6 linked regions of the Homo sapiens genome follow. The protein of the gene in region 1 purifies or fractionates together with the protein of each later gene. This does not show direct contact. Each region holds a gene or a part of one and is shown in the gene's direction. Other genes may lie near its edges.

The links.
Region 2: the proteins of IDH3A (region 1) and QRICH1 fractionate together in Homo sapiens (co-fractionation; one large-scale study listed by BioGRID). This does not show direct contact.
Region 3: the proteins of IDH3A (region 1) and ATP2B1 fractionate together in Homo sapiens (co-fractionation; one large-scale study listed by BioGRID). This does not show direct contact.
Region 4: the proteins of IDH3A (region 1) and RDH13 purify together in Homo sapiens (affinity purification with mass spectrometry, with the first as the bait; one large-scale study listed by BioGRID). This does not show direct contact.
Region 5: the proteins of IDH3A (region 1) and IPO9 fractionate together in Homo sapiens (co-fractionation; one large-scale study listed by BioGRID). This does not show direct contact.
Region 6: the proteins of IDH3A (region 1) and ACO2 fractionate together in Homo sapiens (co-fractionation; one large-scale study listed by BioGRID). This does not show direct contact.

The regions. Positions count from the first base shown.
Region 1 is NC_000015.10:78,162,862-78,166,361, forward strand, and holds part of IDH3A (isocitrate dehydrogenase [NAD] subunit alpha, mitochondrial precursor), read left to right. Parts: intron 1-645; coding exon 646-748; intron 749-854; coding exon 855-919; intron 920-2,130; coding exon 2,131-2,215; intron 2,216-3,288; coding exon 3,289-3,441; intron 3,442-3,500. UniProt on the Homo sapiens protein: Catalytic subunit of the enzyme which catalyzes the decarboxylation of isocitrate (ICT) into alpha-ketoglutarate.
Region 2 is NC_000003.12:49,045,572-49,049,071, reverse strand, and holds part of QRICH1 (transcriptional regulator QRICH1), read left to right. Parts: intron 1-1,825; coding exon 1,826-2,003; intron 2,004-2,492; coding exon 2,493-2,647; intron 2,648-3,500. UniProt on the Homo sapiens protein: Transcriptional regulator that acts as a mediator of the integrated stress response (ISR) through transcriptional control of protein homeostasis under conditions of ER stress.
Region 3 is NC_000012.12:89,614,839-89,618,338, reverse strand, and holds part of ATP2B1 (plasma membrane calcium-transporting ATPase 1), read left to right. Parts: intron 1-1,299; coding exon 1,300-1,537; intron 1,538-3,500. UniProt on the Homo sapiens protein: Catalyzes the hydrolysis of ATP coupled with the transport of calcium from the cytoplasm to the extracellular space thereby maintaining intracellular calcium homeostasis.
Region 4 is NC_000019.10:55,056,649-55,060,148, reverse strand, and holds part of RDH13 (retinol dehydrogenase 13 isoform 1 precursor), read left to right. Parts: intron 1-873; coding exon 874-992; intron 993-3,340; coding exon 3,341-3,496; intron 3,497-3,500. UniProt on the Homo sapiens protein: Retinol dehydrogenase with a clear preference for NADP. Oxidizes all-trans-retinol, but seems to reduce all-trans-retinal with much higher efficiency. Has no activity toward steroids.
Region 5 is NC_000001.11:201,870,657-201,874,156, forward strand, and holds part of IPO9 (importin-9), read left to right. Parts: coding exon 1-202; intron 203-504; coding exon 505-671; intron 672-2,171; coding exon 2,172-2,305; intron 2,306-3,500. UniProt on the Homo sapiens protein: Nuclear transport receptor that mediates nuclear import of proteins, such as histones, proteasome and actin. Serves as receptor for nuclear localization signals (NLS) in cargo substrates.
Region 6 is NC_000022.11:41,475,617-41,479,116, forward strand, and holds part of ACO2 (aconitate hydratase, mitochondrial precursor), read left to right. Parts: intron 1-3,500. UniProt on the Homo sapiens protein: Catalyzes the isomerization of citrate to isocitrate via cis-aconitate.

The DNA.
Region 1 (3,500 bases):
CTGCGCCTCCCTGGGCGAATGACAGGAGCAAATGAGGAGGGGATGGTGATTCAGGTCCTGGAAGCTCAAGGAAGGACTGAGGGTTATCAGGAAAGGAAATTGGAGCCTCGGGGTCCCCAGATGCTGTGGCCATCAGCAGAGGCCACATAGCGTACGTTTTAGAAGTGGAATAGTGGGAGGCTTAAAGTAGTGCTAACAATACCTGATGTGTTACTCCAGCAACTTAAATTCTCATCCAGAGGCTGTTAAAGTCCTCTGAATATATTAACAGTTTTCCTAACCTAAGAAAAGCATTGAACATGCAAAATAGTAAAACTATTTAAATTACTATGTTAACCTTTTAAAGCAATTTTAATAATATTAGTGGGTATTTCTTCATTCTTGTTAGATAACACTATAAAAATATAGTCTTCTCTGTTATGATCAAACTATTTTACATTTTTACTCTTTTATACTTTCAGAAGGATCCTAAAACATTTTCAGCTTATATTTTATTAACTACCTAAGAAATAATTTTATTGTAATTGGGATCAGGTAGCTTGGCTTCTGGAACTTAAATGTCTTGAACTTACTTTACTTCTTTGATTTGATTCTTTTCTTTCTGTAAGACTTTTTTTTCAGCAGTTTTTATTTGATTAAATACAGGCGGATGTCAGATGGGCTTTTTCTACAAAAATGCAGGGAAGTTGCAGAAAGCTGTAAAGATATTAAATTTAATGAGATGTACCTTGATACAGTATGTTTGAATGTAAGTATATATTCACACTTACCTGCTACTTTTTATGGTGAATGGTGTCTGTGTGTTGTGGGGATGCAGATTTTGATTACTAAATGCACAAATGTATTCCTTGTAGATGGTACAAGATCCTTCCCAATTTGATGTTCTTGTTATGCCAAATTTGTATGGAGACATCCTTAGGTGAGTCTGGCTGCAACCTATTTATTTTAGCCTATGATTTACTTATAAACATCCTAAAATAATTATGGCTTAACATTTTCAATTGAGTATTGTGAAATAGAGTATTTGTTGTAACATATGAATTGAATTCTAACAGTTCAGGTTGTGATATGAATGATTACATGTTGGGTGGCTTGTTCCTTCATTGATTTGCCAAATCATTGCTGGGCTCTTTCTCCCTAATCATTATTAGGTCACTCTTCCCAGTTTTTAAATGTTTGATTGATTGATTGATTTTAAGGTTTTGTTATGTATAGCTAGGTAGGTGGGTGGTCATTGTTACTATTTTTTGGTAACTTTTGACATAATTTCAGACTTACAGAAAAGTTGTAAGAATAGTACAAAGAATTCCCTTGTACTCAGCACCCTGATTCCACATTCTCCAGATGTCAGCATTTTATCACATTTACTTTATTACTCCTTCCCACTTTCCCTCCCTTCCTCTTCCTCCTCTCCTTTGTCTGTGCTTCTCTCTCTCTCTCTCTCCCCCCCCGACACACACAGACATAAGATGTTGGCCAAATGGTGATTTTCATTTTTTTTTTTTTTTTGAGGCAGAGTCTTGCTCTGTCGCCTAGGCTGGAGTGCAGTGGCACAATCTCGGCTCACTGCAACCTCTACCTCCCAGGTTCGAGTGATTCTCCTGCCTCCCCTGAGTAGTTGGTATTATTACAGGTGCACACCACCACACCTGGCTAATTTTTGTATTTTTAGTAGGGACGGGGTTTCGCCATGTTGGCCAGGCTGGTCTGGAACTCCTGACCTCAAGTGATCTGCCCACCTTGGCCTCCCAAAGTGCTGGGATTACAGGCATGAGCCACTGAGCCCAGCTGTGGACATGGTTTTCTGTTTTATTCAGTGATATATCCATCATCATAATCATGAATATTGATGCATAGGTTGTCCTAACTTGGCTGATGGGGGTCCCTTCACCATGTCTTCTGTGTCCTTTAGACACGGCCCTTTGTTCTTTGAGCCTTGCCTTGCTTTCTGACACAGTAAGATGCTCGAGGCTCATCTGTATTTTCCTAACCTTTGCCCTGGAATCAGCCATTTATCCAAGGAATGCTACTTCCTTTTAGTGGAGAATGATAATTAAAAACTAAAATCTGGGTGCTAGGTGAGATGTTTTATTTTTAAAAACATTCTTTGAAATGCTTTTCTTCCGCTAGTGACTTGTGTGCAGGATTGATCGGAGGTCTCGGTGTGACACCAAGTGGCAACATTGGAGCCAATGGGGTTGCAATTTTTGAGTCGGTAAGGACCCTGACACCTGAAACAGAACTCAGGTCAGAACAGCGTGTGAACTCAGGAGGAGTTATCTGTATAAGTATGCTTTAACTCCAGTTTTTCAAATTGTCAAAACAAAATGATGCTTTTTTTTTTTCTCGAGACGGAGTCTCGCTCTGTCACCCACGCTGGAGTACAGTGGTGCGATCTTGGCTCACTGCAACCTCTGCCTCCCAGGTTCAAGTGATTCTCCTGCCTCAGCCTCTCAAGTAGCTGGGATTACAGGTGTGAGCCACCACACCTGGCTAATTTTTGTATTTTAGTAGAGATGGGGTTTCACCATGTTGGCCAGGCTGTTCTTGAACTCCTGATCTCAGATGATCCATCCGCCTTGGCCTCCCAAAGTTGCTGGGATTACAGGTGTGAGCCATTGCACCCAGCCTATGTTTGTTTTTATATACACCCATATATAAACATATATATATGTTTGGTTTATCTCTTCATTTCCCTCCAGGTATTTATTATGTATCCTTCCTTCCTTAAAATATTTTACCAAAAATTGACTGAAAAAGATTGTTGGTCCATATTTTTATACTTAAAAAAATTACTTTAGCTCTTTATTTCTCCAAGTCTTTATTTATTTATTTATTTATTTTTGAGCTAGGGCCTTGTTCTGTCACCCAGGCTGGAGTACACTGGTGTGATCATAGCTCACTGCAGGCTTGAACTGCTAGGCTTAAGCAATCCTCCTGCCTCAGCCTCCCAAGTAGCTGGCACTGTAGTCAGGCACCACCATGCCTGGCTAATTGCTAATTTTTTTGTAGAAATGGGGTCTCACTATGTTGCCCAGGCTGGTCTTGAACTCCTGGCCTCAAGTGATCTTCTTGCCTTGGCCTATCAACGTGTTGCGATTACAGGTGTGAGCTATCACGCCCAACCCAGACTTTATTTCTTCAGTCCATATCAGATGAATTGCACGCAGTAGCTTTCAGTGCATATTTTGTATTGCTGAGGAAAGATGGTTAAGACTCCAGCTTCCCCAGAAGAGGACTGTTAGTTTTTGTCTCTCCCTTGATGATGCTACTTTTCCCGATGTGTAGGTTCATGGGACGGCTCCAGACATTGCAGGCAAGGACATGGCGAATCCCACAGCCCTCCTGCTCAGTGCCGTGATGATGCTGCGCCACATGGGACTTTTTGACCATGCTGCAAGAATTGAGGCTGCGTGTTTTGCTACAATTAAGGACGGAAAGGTAACAGGAATCTTGATTTACTTGTGCTGGGTAAAATGCATTGCTTCCATGTGTTTTAT
Region 2 (3,500 bases), on another chromosome or scaffold:
AAATTAGTTGGGCATGGTGGTGCATATCTGTAATCCTAGCTACTCGGGAGGCTGAGAAAGGAGAATCGTTTGAACCTGGGAGGTGAAGGTTGCAGTGAGCCGAGATCGTGCCACTGCACTCCAGCCTAGGCGAAAGAGCAAGACTCCATCTCAGAGGGAAAAAAAAAAAATCACATGGGAAGCTTTTAAAAATACTGACAATGTGCCTCTACCTTACAATGGCTGGAGATAAGGCCCAAGTGTGAGGTTTCTTTCTTTTTTTTTTTTTTTGGTTTTTTTTTTTGTGAACAGAGTCTCACTCTGTTACCCAGGCTGGAGTACAGTGGTGCGATCTCGGCTCACTGCAAGCTCCGCCTCCTGGATTCATGCCATTCTCCTGCCTCAGCCTCCTGAGTAGCTGGGACTACAGGCGCCCGCCACCACACCCGGCTGATTTTTTTGTATTTTAGTAGAGATGGGGTTTCACCGTGTTAGCCAGGATGGTCTCAGTCTCTTGACCTCGTGATCCACCCACCTCGGCCTCCCAAAGTGCTGGGACTACAGGTGTGAGCCACTGCACCCGGCCAGGGTGGGTTTTTTTTTTTTTTTTTTTTTAAAGCAATCCAGATGATTTCAAGGTGAGACCCAGTTTAAGAATCAGTGCTCTCGGCCGATGGCCCAAGCCTGTAGTCCCAGCACTTTGGGAGGCTGAGGAGGGCGGATCACCTGAAGATGGGAGTCAAGACCAGCCTGACCAACATGGAGAAACCCCATCTCTACTAAAAATACAAAATTAGCCGGGCGTGGTGGCACATGCCTGTAATCCTAGCTACTTGGGAGGCTGAGGCAGGAGAATAGCTTGAACCCGGGAGACAGAGGTTGAGGTGAGCCGAGATCCTGCCATTGCACTCCAGCATCCAAGAACAAGAGCGAAACTCTTTCCCCGCCAAAAAAAAAAAAAAGAAAGAAAGAAATGTTGTCTCAGTTCCTACCCTTTTCAATCAGAATATGCATTTTGATAAAATCCCCAAGTGATTTGTTTGCACATTAAAGACTGTGGGAGCAGTGCTTTGAGCCAGTAGTTCTCAGTGGTGACCAAACATTAGAATTACTTTTTTACTTGAGGAGTTTTTTTGTTTTGTTTTGTTTTTTCTTTTTTCTTTTTTCGAGACAGAGTCTCGCTCTATCACCAGGCTGGAGTGCAGTGGTGCAATCTTACTCAAGGAGTTTTTAAACAATTGATACCTTGGCTCCCCCTCAGAGAGATTCTGGGGTAAGTCTGGCTATTAGTGTTTTTAAATAAAAGATTTGACCGGGCACAGTGGTTCACGCCTGTAATCCCAGCACTTTGGGAGACTGAGGCGGGCAGATTACCTGAGGTTGGGAGTTCAAGACCAGCCTGACCAACATGGCGAAACTCCGTCTCGACTAAAATTATAAAATTAGCTGGCCGTGTTGGTGCATGCCTGTAAACCCAGGTACTCGGGAGGCTGAGACAGGAGACTCACTTGAACCCGGGAGGCGGAGGGTGCAGTGAGCTGAGATTGCGCCATTGCACTCCAGCCTGAGCAACAAGAGGAAAACTCCGTCTCAAAAAAAAAAAAAAAAAAAAACATTTAAAAGTGCAGCCAAGGCTGAGAAGCACTGCACTAGCCCAGTTGCAGTGCTGCTTTTGCTGTCCCTGGGGCAAGAGGTAGAACTCCAAAGCTTCTTAAAAGTAGGACAGCAATGAGTAGAGAAATATTTTCTTAAATAAATGAACTATACATAACATTTTTCTGGCAATTTTGCAGAAGGATCTAATATAAAACAATATTGACACATTTTCATGGTTTCTCTCCTATAGGCTCAAACTGTCCAGGTTGCTGAAGTTGAACCACAGTCACAGCCACAGCCTTCCCCAGAACTTCTGCTTCCAAATTCTTTGAAGCCAGAAGAAGGGCTTGAAGTATGGAAAAACTGGGCCCAGACCAAGAATGCTGAACTAGAGAAGGATGCTCAGAACAGATTGGCACCCATTGGGAGTGAGTGTCTTGGAAGAAGAGTGGGCTGTGTCTAAAATGCAATGGTACTAAAGTAACAGGAGGACAAAATGCCAGAAAAGTGGTGTCTCCTGTCTTGGGGACAAGAGAGCAACATCTGTAATAGTATGTTGAATTCAAGCCTAGTAACAAGCAGTACTGACCTTGTGTACATAATAAGCAGGATATGTGGGGTTTGCCCAAAACCAGGCATTTTTAGACATACGGGTTTCAGGAGTTGACCCTACCAGACCTAAGCAGAGTGGCTTCTGGGAGGAAATGGGAACCAGGGATAGGCACTCAAGCCCTTCTTTCTTGGCATTAGGCTCATATACTCATGTTATAGGCCAGTTCTGACATTACAGGCATGAAACATTCTAGTAGATACAAGTGAGCATTTCTATCCCAGCACCCTGATGGGCAGTATCTGTTCTGAGCCTTCCAGATATGGACCCCCAGGACCTTCATTCATTTTTGAGGCTTCCGTTGCAGGGCGCCAACTGCTGCGATTCCAGGAAGATCTCATCTCCTCTGCTGTGGCAGAGTTGAATTATGGGCTCTGTCTAATGACACGGGAAGCTCGAAATGGAGAAGGTGAACCCTATGACCCAGATGTGCTCTACTATATTTTCCTGTGTATTCAAAAGGTAGGAAACAGATCTTCACAAGAACATGTTTGAGCTGTGTTCCTATTGGATGTTTGCTAGTTTAGTTAATAAATTGATAAGCAAGAAGTTAAAATAAGGAAGTTCTCTTTCAGGTATACAGTGAGTTTTAAAATACACATTTGTTGTTTTTTTTTTTTTTTTAAGTTTTAAAAACCTACACGTTCACTTTAGAAAATAACAGCCGGGGCCGGGCGCTGGTGGCTCACGCCTGTAATCCCAGCGCTTTGGGAGGCCGAGGCAGGTGGATCACTTGAGGTCAGGAGTTGAAGACGACCAGCCCAGCCAACATGGTGAAACCCCATCCACTAAAAATAGAAAAATTTGCCAGGTGTGGTGGTGCACTGCCTATAATCCCTGCTATTTGGGAGGCTGAGGCATGAGAATCGCTTGAACCCGGGAGGTAGAGGTTGCAATGAGCTGAGATCACAGCATTTTACTCCAGTCTGGGTGACAGAGCGAGACTCTGTCTCAAAAATTAAAAAAAAAAGAAAAGAAAAGAAAAAAAATAAGAGCCAGGCAAGATGTCTCACACCTGTAATCCCAGCACTTTGGGAGGCTCAAGGCAGGAGGATCGCTTGAGCCCCAGGAGTTTGAGACCAGCCTAGGCAACATAGTGAAACCCCATCTCTACAAAAAATTAGCTGGGTATGGTAATGCATGCCTGTAGTCCCAGCTACTTGGGAGGCTGAGGTGGGAGGATTGCTTGAGCCCCAGAGGTTGGGGCTGTAGTGAGTCATGATTATGTCACTACACTCCAGCCTGGGTGACAGAGTGAGACCCTGTCTGAAAAACGAAAAGAAAAAAAATTAGCTGGGTGTGGTGGCACACACCT
Region 3 (3,500 bases), on another chromosome or scaffold:
ATGAAGTAATGCATACCAACTGTCTAGTGTGAAGCCTGGTGGACAGTAAACATACAGCAAGTGTTCCCACAGTAATATTTGCATTTTGTTGTGGAGACTTTTTAAATGTTGGGCTGAGCAGTTAAAATTGAAGTAAGCCAGATAATGCAAATGAGGTATTTTTTTCTTCAAGTAGTAGAATCATCAAAGCTGTGATTAAAGATAATTCTTGCATCAGGGAACAAGGTGGGTTAGAGGGAAAAAAAAAATCAACTAGAGACATATCAGTTAAAAGGCTATTGCTATTACAATAGCTGTAGCTTTGTAGCTTGAAGTAAGAACCAGAAGAAAGTAGTAGCAGGAGAAATAAAAAGGAGTGGACACATTGAGGAGGCTGTTCAGAGGAGAAATGTATAGGACTTAGGAGCTAATAGTAGAGAGATGATCAGGAAAAATAAGTATTAAGGTGAAATTTTAGACTTACATCAAAATGATTAGGGTAATGTTGATGCACATTACATGGGCAGTGAAGAGGCAGCTTCCAGTCTTTCATCCATTAAGGTTTAGGTACTGATAAAACATCTGGGTAGAATTTTTCAGCAGTGATGGAAAGCTTTGAAAAACAAAACAGAAGATGTGGATTTGGGAATTACCTCCCTAGAAGCAGGAAGAGATGGCATCATCAAGGGAGAGGAGTATAGAGAGGCATTATGAAAAACAAACTTTAAATAGGTATATAGTATGATTTTTATTCATTATGTAATGAAAGAAAAGGTAGTAGTGTCACTGAAAATAACTTTTGGCATTAACTCTCATTCTGATAGAATGCTTATTTTAACAATAAGTTATTTTTTTTCTTTCATGGTTAAAACAATATAGGTGATGAAACAACATCTCAGGTAAGGGGTTGACTACGCTTGGCTTTTTACCTTAAAAGAAGAAAACATTTGTGATTTTGGTATTATTTCAAACTAATGTCTGATTCTGTACCAAAATGGTGAAGTATATAGTTTATTCTCCTTTGCCACCCAGGGATTCTTTATGAAAGTTTGAAAGCACTGCATTTCCAAAAGACAAGGTTTAGAGAAGTTCTAGAGTAATTGATAAATGGAGAACTGTCAAATGAGAACCATACATATTAGTTCTGTTTTGTAAAAGGGAGGGTGAAAAGTGAATTTAAGTCTATAAAAATGAATTATATGTAATTCTCTAAATTCCAGATATCAGATCCCATGATTTCTAGGCCTGCCAGTTCACTTAAATGGCATTAACCATTATTTTTTTAAATTATTGATGTTTGGATTCAACATTTCCTTTTAGGTGTTTCAAAATCTTGAGTGCTAATGGTGAGGCAAAAGTATTCAGACCAAGGGACCGTGATGATATTGTAAAAACTGTGATTGAACCGATGGCATCAGAAGGCTTGAGAACCATATGTCTTGCATTCAGAGATTTTCCAGCAGGAGAACCAGAACCAGAGTGGGATAATGAAAATGATATTGTCACCGGCCTTACATGCATTGCTGTTGTGGGGATTGAAGATCCTGTGAGACCTGAGGTGGTGAAACATTCTGTGTTCTGCATGTGCAGAATCTCATAACTATAGAGGACCTAGGCCTTAATTGTAACCAGTTTTCTAGTAAAATTCTTGGTGTTTGTGATTTTTTTTTTTTCTGTGTGAACCCAAGATAAATGAAATAATAGTACCTACAGTGCATATGCTAGCTTTTATGGTTTTTAAAGACAGTGTCTCTTTGGGATCCTATGTGTTCATAGCACCATAACCTAGCACAGTGCCTTGAAGTGGGTAGAATTTTCAGTTATTATTTATCTTAAATTAAATAATAGGTGCCATTATTTGTTTTCACAGTCTCTAGACTAGCATTGTCTAGTAGAGCTTTCTGTGATAATAGGAATGTTCTGTATATTGTTTAGTACAGTAGCCACTAGCCATGTGTGAATACTGACTTCTAGTTTTCAGTGGCTAGTGCAACTAAAAGACAGGATTTTTAAATTTTATTTAATTCAAATTAAAATATCTTGCTAGTAGTTGTCATATTGGATGGCATGCAGCTCTAGACTGATTTCCCTCTTTAATTTTTTTTTGCTATTTGGTTTTTCACCTTTTTTAAGTTTGTTGAACAACTACTGTGTGCCAGGCACTATCCTAAGGTACTAGAGACTTAAGAGTTTTGAGATCTGATCACCGGCCTCAAAGAAGTTACTGTCTTATGTGGGACGAACCAAACACGTGATTATTGCAACCCAAGATATTACTACCTTGCTGGGTATATACAGAGCATGTTATATGAGCAGAGAACACGAGTTCCCAACCTAGCCTAATAGCATCTTTTTATTGAGTTCTCACTGTGTGCCATATACTTAAGCCATGTGTTTTACAAGTAATTTTTTTAAATGTCTACCTTTATGAGGTATGCATATTATTACTCTTATTTGGCAGATTTTTAAGAATCAAAAATGTATAGAGCGTTAGACATGTTTAAAAATACATTTTTAAAAAATCGAGAATGTATAGAGCATAGACCTAGTGTGTTAAAATACCAGCTTTGTCTAAAACACATGTGCTTAAAAGACTACTGTACTGTATTGACCACTGGAGGGGTCAGGTAAGACTTCCTAGAGGTTAATTACCTGATCTGATTCTTAAAGAAGGAGGAAGTATTATCTAAACCAAGAAAGAGAGCGAGCAGTTAGGTATATTCTGAGCAAAGAAGCAACATAAATAAAAGCACTAACAGAAAACCACTTTTGTTCAGTGACTTTATCAGCTAATTGATTCAAAACCTAATGTGTAGCACTCTTTTAGGAGCTGGAAATACTGCAGTGACCAGAATAGGCTTGAGATTTATATTCTAGAGGAAGAAGACAGCTAAGTAGGTAGAATGATAGATACATGGACACCATGTCAAGTGAAAAATGAATTCTGGGAGGAATAAGACTTGGTCCCTGTTCTCATAGGCCTTAAGATATTCTGGGTGGCAGGGTGGCATATCAGGGGGGATGATATTAAATAAGACAATTACAAGTGCAGAAGGGCTATATAAGATATGCACGGTGTAATGAAATAAAGTAATGGAGAGAGACTGCATTAAGAATTTCTGAGGATGTGGCATTTGAGTTGCAATCTGATGGTTCATAGTGGGTCTGCCATGTAAATAGCTGCAAGAAGAGCATTCCAAGCAAAACGAGAAATGCAAGTGAAAGTGAGAAAAGTAGCTATTTTAAAGGTGGAAAAGAGGCCAGTGTGGCTATAAATGTAAAGAAGAAAGGGGAGACGAGATGATCTCTGGCCTTACTGGGCTGTGAGGACTCTGAATTTTCTGAAATTCAGGCTGGGAAGTGACATGATTTATGTTGTTAAAATACTATTTTGGGTACGTGTAAGACAGGGATTAGAGATGAAGAAGAGTAGAAGCAGGGAAGCTAATGAGATTATTGCAGTGATCCCAGGCAAGAGATGATCATGGCTTGGCCCACAGTTGTGGCATAGGAGATGGAAA
Region 4 (3,500 bases), on another chromosome or scaffold:
ACCAATCCACCTCAGCACAGACCCTTTACGGGTGTTGGGCTGGGGGACGGTCAGGTCTTTCTCATCCCACGAGGCCATATTTCAGACTATCCCACGGGGAGAAACCTTGGACAATACTCTGTGTTCAAGGGCAGAGGTCCCTGCAGCTTTCTGCAGTGCATCGTGCCCCTGGTTTATTGAGACTAGAGACTGGCGATGACTTTTACCAAGTATACTGCTTGGAAACATTGTGTTAACAAGGCACTTCCTGCACAGCCCTAGATCCCTTAAACCTTGATTTCATACAACACAGGTTTTTGTGAGCTCCAGATTGGGTCAAAGTGGCTGGGTCAAAGCTACAAATTAACAACATCTCAGCAAAGCAATTGTTCAAAGTACAGGTCTTTTTCAAAATGGAGTCTCTTATGTCTTTCCTTTCTATATAGACACAGTAACAGTCTAATCTCTCTTTTCCCTACACATCTGGCTAATTTTTGTATTTTAAGTAGAGACGGGGTCTCGCCATGTTTGCCAGGCTGGACTCGAACTCCTGACCTCAAGTGATCCGCCCCCGCCCCCCCCCACCCCCAAAACTTTGGCCTCCCAAAGTGCTGGGATTACAGGTGCAAGCCCCCTCACCTGGCCGGGAATCTCATGCAGTGAGCATTTATAAAATAATGACTGTCACTTGCTGAAGGCGTTCCACACGCCAGACACTGGGTGGAGCCACTTATGGAGAACATGACAGAGGTCCCTTGGTGTGATGTGATGATGTCTGTGTTTCAGTTGGGGTATGTGAGTGAGCTCAGACAAGGTTGCCTGAGATCATTCAGTCAGGGGCACGTGGGGTGAGAGTGGGCCCACAGGACTGACCGTGCCGCTTCTCACCCTCAGGGACTATGTCACCGGTGGGGCTTGCCCCAGCAAGGCCACCATCCCTGGGAAGACGGTCATCGTGACGGGTGCCAACACAGGCATCGGGAAGCAGACCGCCTTGGAACTGGCCAGGAGAGGTAAAATCTCCCCTGCTTTGGCTCTCAGAGAGATATCTGTACATCCATGCTCACTGCAGCATTATTCACAGTCCGGAGGTGGAAGGAACCCAGGCACCCATCCACAGATGAACAGGGAAACAGAATGTGGCTTCTATAGACAGGGGCATATGATTCAGCCTTAAAAAGGAAGGGCATTCTGGCCGGGCGCGGTGGTGCACGCCTGTAATCAGTACTTTGGGAGGCCAAAGCTGGCGGATCACGAGGTCAGGAGTTCGAGACCAGCCTAACCAACATGGTGAAACCCCCTCTCTACTAAAAATACAAAAATTAGCCAGGAGTTGTGGTGGGCACCTGTAGTCCCAGCTGCTTGGGAGGCTGAAGCAGGAGAATCGCTTGAACCTGAGAGGCAGGGGTTGCAGTGAGCAGAGATGGCGCCACGGCACTCCAGCCTGGGTGACAGAGTGAGACTCAAAAACAAAACAAAACAAAGCAAAACAAAAAAAAGGGCATTGAAACAGATGAACCTTGAGGACATTCCATGAAGTGAAATAAGCCAGTCGACAGAAGAGCAAATACGGTATGATTCCACTTACAGGAGCTACCTACAGTTAAATTCATAGAGAAGTTGGAATGGTGCTTGCCAGGGGTCAGGAGGGGAGGGGAGAATGGGGAGTTACTGTTTAATGGAAACGGAAGTTTAGTTTGGCAAGATGAAACAATTTGAGAGATGGATGGTTGTAATGGTTGCACAACATTAGGAATTATTATTATTGTTTTTTTTTTTTTGAGATGGAGTTTTGCTCTTGTCGCCCAGGCTGGAGTGCAGTGGCATGATCTTGGCTCACTGCAACCTTCGCCTCCCGGGTTCAAGCAATTCTCCTGCCTCAGCCACCCGAGTAGCTGGGATTACAGGCATGCAACACCACACCCAGCTAAGTTTGTAATGTGTTGGCCAGGCTGGTCTTGAACTCCTGACCTCAGGTGATCCACCTGCCTTGGTCTCCCAAAGTGCTGGGATTACAGGTGTGAGCCACCATGCCCGGCCCAGCCATAAATGTTTTTAATACCAATGAACTGGACACTTAAAAATGGCTAAGAGGGCGGGTCTCGGTGGCTCACATCTATAATTCCAGCACTTTTGGAGGCTGAGGCAGGAGGATCACTTGAGGCCAGGGGTTCCAGACCAGCCTGGACACCATAGCAACACCCCCATCTCTACCAGAGTTAGCCAGGCATGCTGGCACAGGTGGTACCTATAGTCCCAGGTCACTTGAGCCTAGGAGTTCAAGGCTGAATGAGCTGTGATGGCGCCAGCACTCCAGCCGCGGCAGCAGAGTGAGACTGACTCAAAAAAAAAAAAATAATAATAAACAAAAAGAAAAGGGGGTTAAGATGATAAATTTTAAGTGATTTGTATTTTACCACAACAAAAAAAATTGGAGGCTGGGCATTGTGGCTTATTTGTAATCCCAGTACTTTGGGAGGCCGCGGGGTGGATCACCTGAGGTCAGAAGTTCAAGACTAGCTTGGCTAACATGGTGAAACCGCTGTCTCTACTAAAAATAAAAAAATAAAAAATTAGCTAGTTGTGGTAGGTGCCTGTAATCCCAGCTACTCGGGAGGCTGAGGCAGGAGAATTGCTTGAACCCAGGAGGTGGAGGTTGCAGTGAGCCGAGATTGCGCCACCGCACTCCAGCCTGGGTGACAGAGTGAGACTCCATCTAAAAAAAAAAAAAAAAGGAGAGGATGGGGAATCCTCTTGCCTTGGCCTCCCAAAGTGCTGGAATTACAGGTGTGAGCCACCGTGCCCGACCAATTCAGTGATGTTTAGTATAGTCACAGAATGATGCAACCATCTTTAAAATCAATCTTAGAACATCTGTTACCCTAGAAAGAAACCTGCTCACTGTAACTATCAAGCTGTAATTCCCTCTCCCCACCCCCTGCCCTAGAAAACCAAGAATCTATTTTCTTTCTCTATGGATTTGCCTATTCTGGGCGTTTCATAGGTGTGAAATCATATACATAGAATTCATGTAAATGGGATTGTACGCTGTGTGGTCTTTCGTGTCTGGTTTCTTTCCCCGAGCACAGTGTTTCTGACGGTCATCCTTGCTGTAGCATGAGCCAGTGCTTCACTCCTTTTCACGGCCGTCTAATATTCCATCTCTATGGATGGACCACATTTTGTTGTCCCTTCATCCACAGATGGGCATTTGGTTGTTTCTACCTTTTGGCTTTTGTGAAGAATGCCGCAGTGAACATTGGTGGATGTGTTTTTGTGTAGACGTATGTTTTCATGTCTCTGGGGTCAGTACCCAGGAGTGGATTATTAATTTAAATCTTTTTCCATCCTGGGTTTTCAGGAGGCAACATCATCCTGGCCTGCCGAGACATGGAGAAGTGTGAGGCGGCAGCAAAGGACATCCGCGGGGAGACCCTCAATCACCATGTCAACGCCCGGCACCTGGACTTGGCTTCCCTCAAGTCTATCCGAGAGTTTGCAGCAAAGATCATTGAAGGTAG
Region 5 (3,500 bases), on another chromosome or scaffold:
CCACAATGGACTGTGGTATGTGATGCAAGTGGTGAGCCAGCTCCTGGACCCCCGCACCTCAGAGTTCACTGCGGCCTTTGTGGGCCGCCTTGTTTCCACCCTCATCTCCAAGGCAGGGCGGGAACTCGGGGAGAATCTAGACCAGATTCTTCGTGCCATCCTCAGTAAGATGCAGCAGGCAGAGACGCTCAGTGTCATGCAGGTAAGAGAGCAGTGGGGAGTGGGCTTCCTACTCCCTGGCTGATAGAAATGAAAATTCGTATTTTGGTCCTGAGTTATTTTATTTTACCCTCTTACTAGCCTTGTAGGACAGTTAAGTAAAATGGGACCTGTCTGATCTGTTTGGCCTAAGAAACATGGACAAGGAAATCTCCCATGTTTTCTTGTCCTGTGGATAATACCCTCAGTGTAGACTGTATTTCTTATCTGACTGGCCAGTTCCCTCTCATCTCCTATGTCTCTGAAATTGATTTCCCTGAAGCAAATGTCCTTATTTTCTCCTAGTCCCTGATCATGGTGTTCGCTCATCTGGTGCACACTCAGCTAGAACCTCTCTTGGAGTTCCTGTGTAGCCTCCCAGGACCTACTGGCAAACCTGCTCTAGAGTTTGTGATGGCTGAGTGGACAAGCCGACAGCACCTGTTCTATGGACAGTATGAAGGCAAAGTCAGGTAGAACCTCATCTTTCTTTTCTGGGCATTCTGCCACCACTCATATTTCTTTTTTTTTTTTTTTTTTTTTTTTTTTTTTGAGACAGTCTCGCTCTGTCGCCCAGGCTGGAGTGCAGTGGCACAATCTTGGCTCACTGCAACCTCCACCTCCTAGGTTCAAGCAATTCTCCTGCTCCTGCCTCAGCCGTCCGAATATTACACACATGCACCACCATACCCAGTGAATTCTTTGTGTGTGTGTTTTTAGTAGAGAGAGGGTTTCACCATGTTGGCCAGGCTGGTCTTGAACTCCTGACCTCAAGTGATCCACCCACTTCGGCCTCCCACAGTGCTGGGATTACAGGTGTGAGCCACTGCTCCTGACACATATTTCTTTTTTTTCCTGATTTGCTCCATTGATTTTTGTTTGACATTTCAAATGGCTCTCTGTATTCCCTTTTCCCTGTCTTTCTTTATTGCTAACGCACATATGTGAATAGCTGCCATCTTGAAATCCCCAAAAGACAGTCAACACAGGTAGACTATATATTTCTGGTCTCTGTTTACAAGAGATCCCTTCTCTACCACAGACTTCACACAGCTAAGTGCTGCTAGTGGCTTATTTTCCTTTATAAGCCCAAGCCTTGGCCAGGCACAGTGGCTCACACCTATAATCCCAGCACTTTAGGAGGCTGAGGCGAGCAGATCACCGGAGGTCAGGAGTTCAAGACCAGCCTGGCAAACATGGTGAAACACTGTCTCTACTATAAATACAAAAAATAGCTGGATGTGGTTGTGGGTGCCTGTAATCCCAGCTACTCGGGAGGCTAAGGCAGGAGAATCGCTTGAACCAAGGAGGCAGATCACGCCATTGCACTTCAGCCTGGGCGACGAGCGAAATTGTCTCAGAAAAATAAAAATAAAAAACCCAACCTTCTAACCCTGGCTTCCTAACTTTTTATCCTGGATTTTTATACCACTGATTCTTATCACCTCGTTGCACCTTACAATATGGTGCAACCTTAGCTTTGTTCAAGAAGAACAGGTCACCTGTAATCCCGGCACTTTGGAAGACTGAGGTGGGCGAATTGCTTGAGACCCACCCGGGCAACATGGTGAAACCTGTGTCTACCAAAAAAATACAAAAATTAGCCAGGCACGGTGGCGCATGCCTATAGTCCCAGCTACTTGGGAGGCTGAGGTGGGAGGATCACCTGAACCCAGGGAGGTCAAGGCTGCAGTGAACCATGATCACACCACTGCACTCAGCCTGGGTGACAGAATGAGACCCTATCTCAAAAACAACAACAACAACAACAACAACAAAAAAGCACAGATCTCATTAAACCACCTCATGAACTCTAAAATCTCATTTTCAGCTGAACTCTCTTAGCTCTCCTAATTAGTTGTTAACGGAATTTTCACTATCAAATAGAGGGTCTTAGGACATAATTGCTTATCTCCTTGGAGTGAACTCGAGATGGGCGGCTGATTGACCTTTTTTTGGATCTTCCTTGCCAGCTCTGTGGCACTCTGTAAGCTGCTCCAGCATGGCATCAATGCAGATGACAAACGGCTACAGGATATCCGTGTGAAGGGAGAGGAGATCTACAGCATGGATGAGGGCATCCGCACCCGCTCTAAGTCAGCCAAAAGTGGGTGCTGCTGCGATTCTTCCAATCCTCTCCCTATACGAAGGGGCTAAGGATACCTGGGTGAAGGGAAGGAATGCACTGTGGTGTATATTTTTAAAACAATTGTTGGTGATGGGTTTGATAAAGAAGAAGCAGGAAACTTAGGTAAAAGGGATCAGAACATACGGTTTCTTCCTGTTGTGGAAAATGGACAAAAATAGGCCGGGCATGGTGGCTCACGCCTGTAATCCCAGCACTTGGTGGGAGGCCAGAGCGGATGGATCACTTGAAGTCAGGAGTTTGAGACTAGCCTGACCAACATGGTGAAATCCCGTCTTTACTAAAAATACAAAAATTAGCCAGGCATGGTGGTGGGCGCCTGTAATCCCAGCTACTTGGGAGGCTGAGGCAGGAGAATCGCTTGAACCTGGGAGGCAGAGGTTGCGGTGAGCAAAGATCGTGCCACTGCATTCCAGCCTGGACAACAAAATGAGACTCCGTCTCAAAAAAAAAAAAAAAAAAAAAATGCAGGCGTGGTGGCTCACACCTGTAATCCCAGCACTTTGGGAGGCCGAGGTGGGTGGATCGCCTGAGGCCGGGAGTTCGAGACCAGCCTGACCAACATAGAGAAACCCCGTCTCTACCAAAAATACAAAGTTAGCCAGGCATGGTGGCGCATGCCTGTAATCCCAGCTACTCGGGAGGCTGAGGCAGGAGAATCGCTTGAACCCGGGAGGTGGAGGTTGCAGTGAGCCAAGATCACGCCATTGCACTCCAGCCTGGGCAATAAGAGCAAAACTCTGTCTGAAGAAAAAAAAAAGACAAAAATAGTCTCAGGCACCAAGCATCCCAGCTTCCAGCTTCATTCAGAAGCGTGGGCACAGATAGTCAGCATGTCTTTGTTACTGAGTTGCCTTTGGCCTGTAACTCCAATGATTTGCAGGTAGGGAGTATAGAGCTGCTATCTTTAATGTAGATTTATAATTACCTCCGCTGTCTCTCAAATTCTAAGTCATTGGGACTGGAGTACTGGCTCTATACAGTTCCTTGGTTTCAGAGCTTTATTACTAACAAGACTGTATCTCCTTTAATCCCTGAACTCTCATCTCTCCCAGCTTCTGAACTGTTACAATACCAAACAATAAAGTTATTTAACTTTAAGTCACTCTTTGGAGACTGGATATAGTCAGGTACAGTGAAAGTCTGAGGGGTGGTG
Region 6 (3,500 bases), on another chromosome or scaffold:
GGACGTGGTGGCTCACGCCTGTAATCCCAGCACTTTGGGAGGCTGAGGTGGGTGGATCACAAGCTCAGGAGTTCGAGACCAGCCTGGCCAATATGGTGAAACCCCATCTTTACTAAAAATACAAAAAAAAAATTAGCCAGTCGTGGTGGCGCATGCCTGTGATCCCAGCTACTCAGGAGGCTGAGGCAGGAGAATCAGCTGAACCCAGGAGGTGGAGGTTGCAGTGAGCCGAGATCGCGCCACTGCACTCCAGCCTGGGCAACAGGGTGAAACTCTGTCTCAAAAAAAAAAAAAAAAGCAGCAGATGGACCCTCAGGAGCCTTAGGAGACTTCTGCCACTGGCTTACTGGGTAGCTTCGGGCAAAGTCTCAACTCTCTGTGGTCCTGCAGTTAGTTACACATCTGCAAAACAGTGTAATTAATAACTACCCTTCAGTTAAGAAGGGTTCTGAAGGCCTAATATTTGAAAAGTTGTTTTGACTCTGTTTGATGTGTTATAAAGCATTGTGAGCCGGGTGTGGTGCCTCATGCCTGTAATCCCAGCACTTTGGGAGCCCAAGGCAGGTGGATCACCTGAGGTCAGGAGCTCAAGACCAGCCTGACCAACATGGTGAAACCCCGTCTGTACTTAAAATACAAAATTAGTCAGGTGTGGTGGCGCATGCCTGTAATCTCAGTTACTTTGTGGGCTAAGACAGGAGAATCGTTTGAACCTGGGAGGCGGAGGTTGTACTGAGTTAAGATTGTGCCATTGCACTCCAGCCTGGGCAACAAGAATGAAACTCTGTCTTAAAAAAAAAAAAAAAAAAGGCCAGACGCAGTGGCTCACACCTGTAATCCCAGCATTTTGGGAGGCCAAGGCAGGCAGATCACCTGAGGTCAGGAGTTTGAGACCAGCCTGACCAACATGGTGAAACTCCATCTCTACTAAAAATAGAAAAAAATTAGCTGGGTGTGTGGGTGGTCGCCTGTAGACCCAGCTACTCGGGAGGCTGAGGTACGAGAATCGCTTGAACCTGGGAGGCAGAGCTTGCAATGAGCCGAGATTGCGCCACTGTACTCCAGCTTGGGCAACAGAGCGAGACTCTGTCTCAAAAACAAAACAAAACAAAAAAACAAAAAAACACACACACTGCAAATAGTTTCTGATATTATTTTAGGAATAGGCCATTTCTAAGATTGAGAGTAGGGACAGATTTTCCCCTTGTAGAATATCTTCATTTTGGAAGTCTTGAAAGGTAGGGAGAATGGGCCAGGCATGGTAGCTCACGGCTGTAATCCCAGGACTTTGGGAGGCCGAGGTGGGTGGATCACTTGGGGTCAGGAGTTCAAGACCAGCCTGGCCAACATGGTGAAACTCTGTCTCTACTAAAATACAAAAAATTAACTGGGCATGGTGGCGTGTACCTGTAATCCCATTTACTTGGGAGACTGAGGCAGGAGAATCAGGTTCAAGCGAGTCTCCTGCCTCAGCCTCCCAAGTAAATTAAAGGTAGGGAGAATGGTTTCCATATTATTTATTTATTTATTTATTTATTTATTTATTTATTTTTTTGAGACGGAGTCTGGCTCTGTCTCCCAGGCTGGAGTGCAGTGGCGCGATCTCCACTCAGTTCAAGCTCCGCCTCCCGGGTTCACGCCATTCTCCTGCCTCAGCCTCCTGCGTAGCTGGGACTACAGGCACCCGCCACCACGCCCAGCTAATTTTTTGTATTTTTTTTTTTAGTAGAGATGGGGTTTCACGGTGTTAGCCAGGATGGTCTCAATCTCCTGACCTTGTGATCCACCTGCCTCGGCCTCCCAAAGTGCTGGGATTACAGGCGTGAGCCACCGCACCCGACCTCTTTAGTTTTATTCTGCAGCACCTGGGCCAGAGGAAGGGGCACCAGCTTTGGAGCCAGGCCTGGAATTCCACCTTGCTGCGTGACCCTGGGCAAAACAGTTAGCATTCCAGAGCTTCAGTTTCCTCATCCATTAAATGGGCACAATGCCTTCTGCCTCACAGGGTAGTCGTGGGATTGTGTGGATAAAGTACTTGGGGCAAATCCAGTGCAGGGTAGAGGCACTTGGTGAATATTCATTTCTGTCTCCAGCCCCTGCAGATGGCCCGCGGCATCCATCACCCCAGCCTTTATCCTTAGCTCATACGTTTAAAAAAGACCAGTTGTGGCCGGGCACAGTGGCTCACGCCTGTAATCCCAGCACTTTGGGAGGCCGAGATGGGTGGATCACGAGGTCAGGAGTTTGAGAACAGTGTGGCCAATGTAGTGAAACCCCGTCTCTACTAAAAATACAGATATGAGCCGGGCATGGTGGTGTGCGCCTGTAGTCCCAGCTACTTGGGAGGCTGAGGCAGAAGAATCGCTTGAACTCAGGAAGCAGAGGATGCAGTGAGCCGAGATCACGCTGCTGCACTCCAGCCTGGGCAACAGAGCGAGACTCTGTCTCAAAAAAAAAACCAAACCAGTTGTGAAAATTGCTTGTTCCTCCCATCATCTCCCCAGATAGCAGGTAAGTGGTAGTTGTTCAAGGAAACCTTTTTTTCAAGATAGAGTCTCGCTCTGTTGCTCAGTCTGGATGCAGTGGCATGATCTCACTGCAACCTCCACCTCCTGGGTTCAAGCAGTTCTTTTGCCCCAGCCTCCCAAGTAGCTGGGATCACAGGCACGCACCACCATGCCCAGCTAATTTTTGTATTTTTTGTTTTAGTAGAGACAGGGTCTCACCCTGTTGGCAAAGCTGGTCTCCAACTCCTGACCTCAAGTGGTCCAGCTGCCCCAGCTTCCCAAAATATTGAGATTACAGGCGTGAGCCACTGCGCCTGGCCAAGAAAACCCTTTCAATACTGTTTTAAAAGAGTTGGGGGAAGAGGTAGAAATGAATCTTTTGGTTTAGTTTTTTAATTCTCTAAGGACAACATTGGGGAAGTGAGCTTTAGAGTTATATTTGCAGTATTTATTTTTATCATGAAATATTCAAGTCTAGGCCCTTGGTGAATTGAGGCCTGGTGAGTATTTCTGCTTTCCCCCTGGAGAGATTGAGATGGTTTCTGATTGGGAGCTTTAATTCTGTGGGCATTTGTGGGACTTACCAAAGAGGTATCTAGAGTTCCTTTAAAACCCCCGCCCTGTCCCTGCCACATATCTTCTTTTTTTTTTTTTTTTTTTTGAGAAGGAGTCTCACTCTGTAGCCCAAGCTGGAGTGCAGTGAGTGACACGATCTCTGCTCACTGCAACCTTTGCCTCTGGGGCTCAAGCAATTCTCCTGCCTCAGCCTCCCAAGTAGCTGGGACCAGAGGCATGCGCCACCACACCTGGTTAATTTTCTTGTATGCCACACTTCTTTAGTTCCTTGTAGCCGGGCTCCTTGACCTTCTGCAGGGCATCTGTGGTTGTGGTATTTATAAGCACTCACTGTGTCATGAGTGTGTTCACAGAGCTCTAAGACAAGGGCCCTGTCTGTGGAAGAGCTTTTAGGGTGGTGAGGGAGAAGTCATCTAA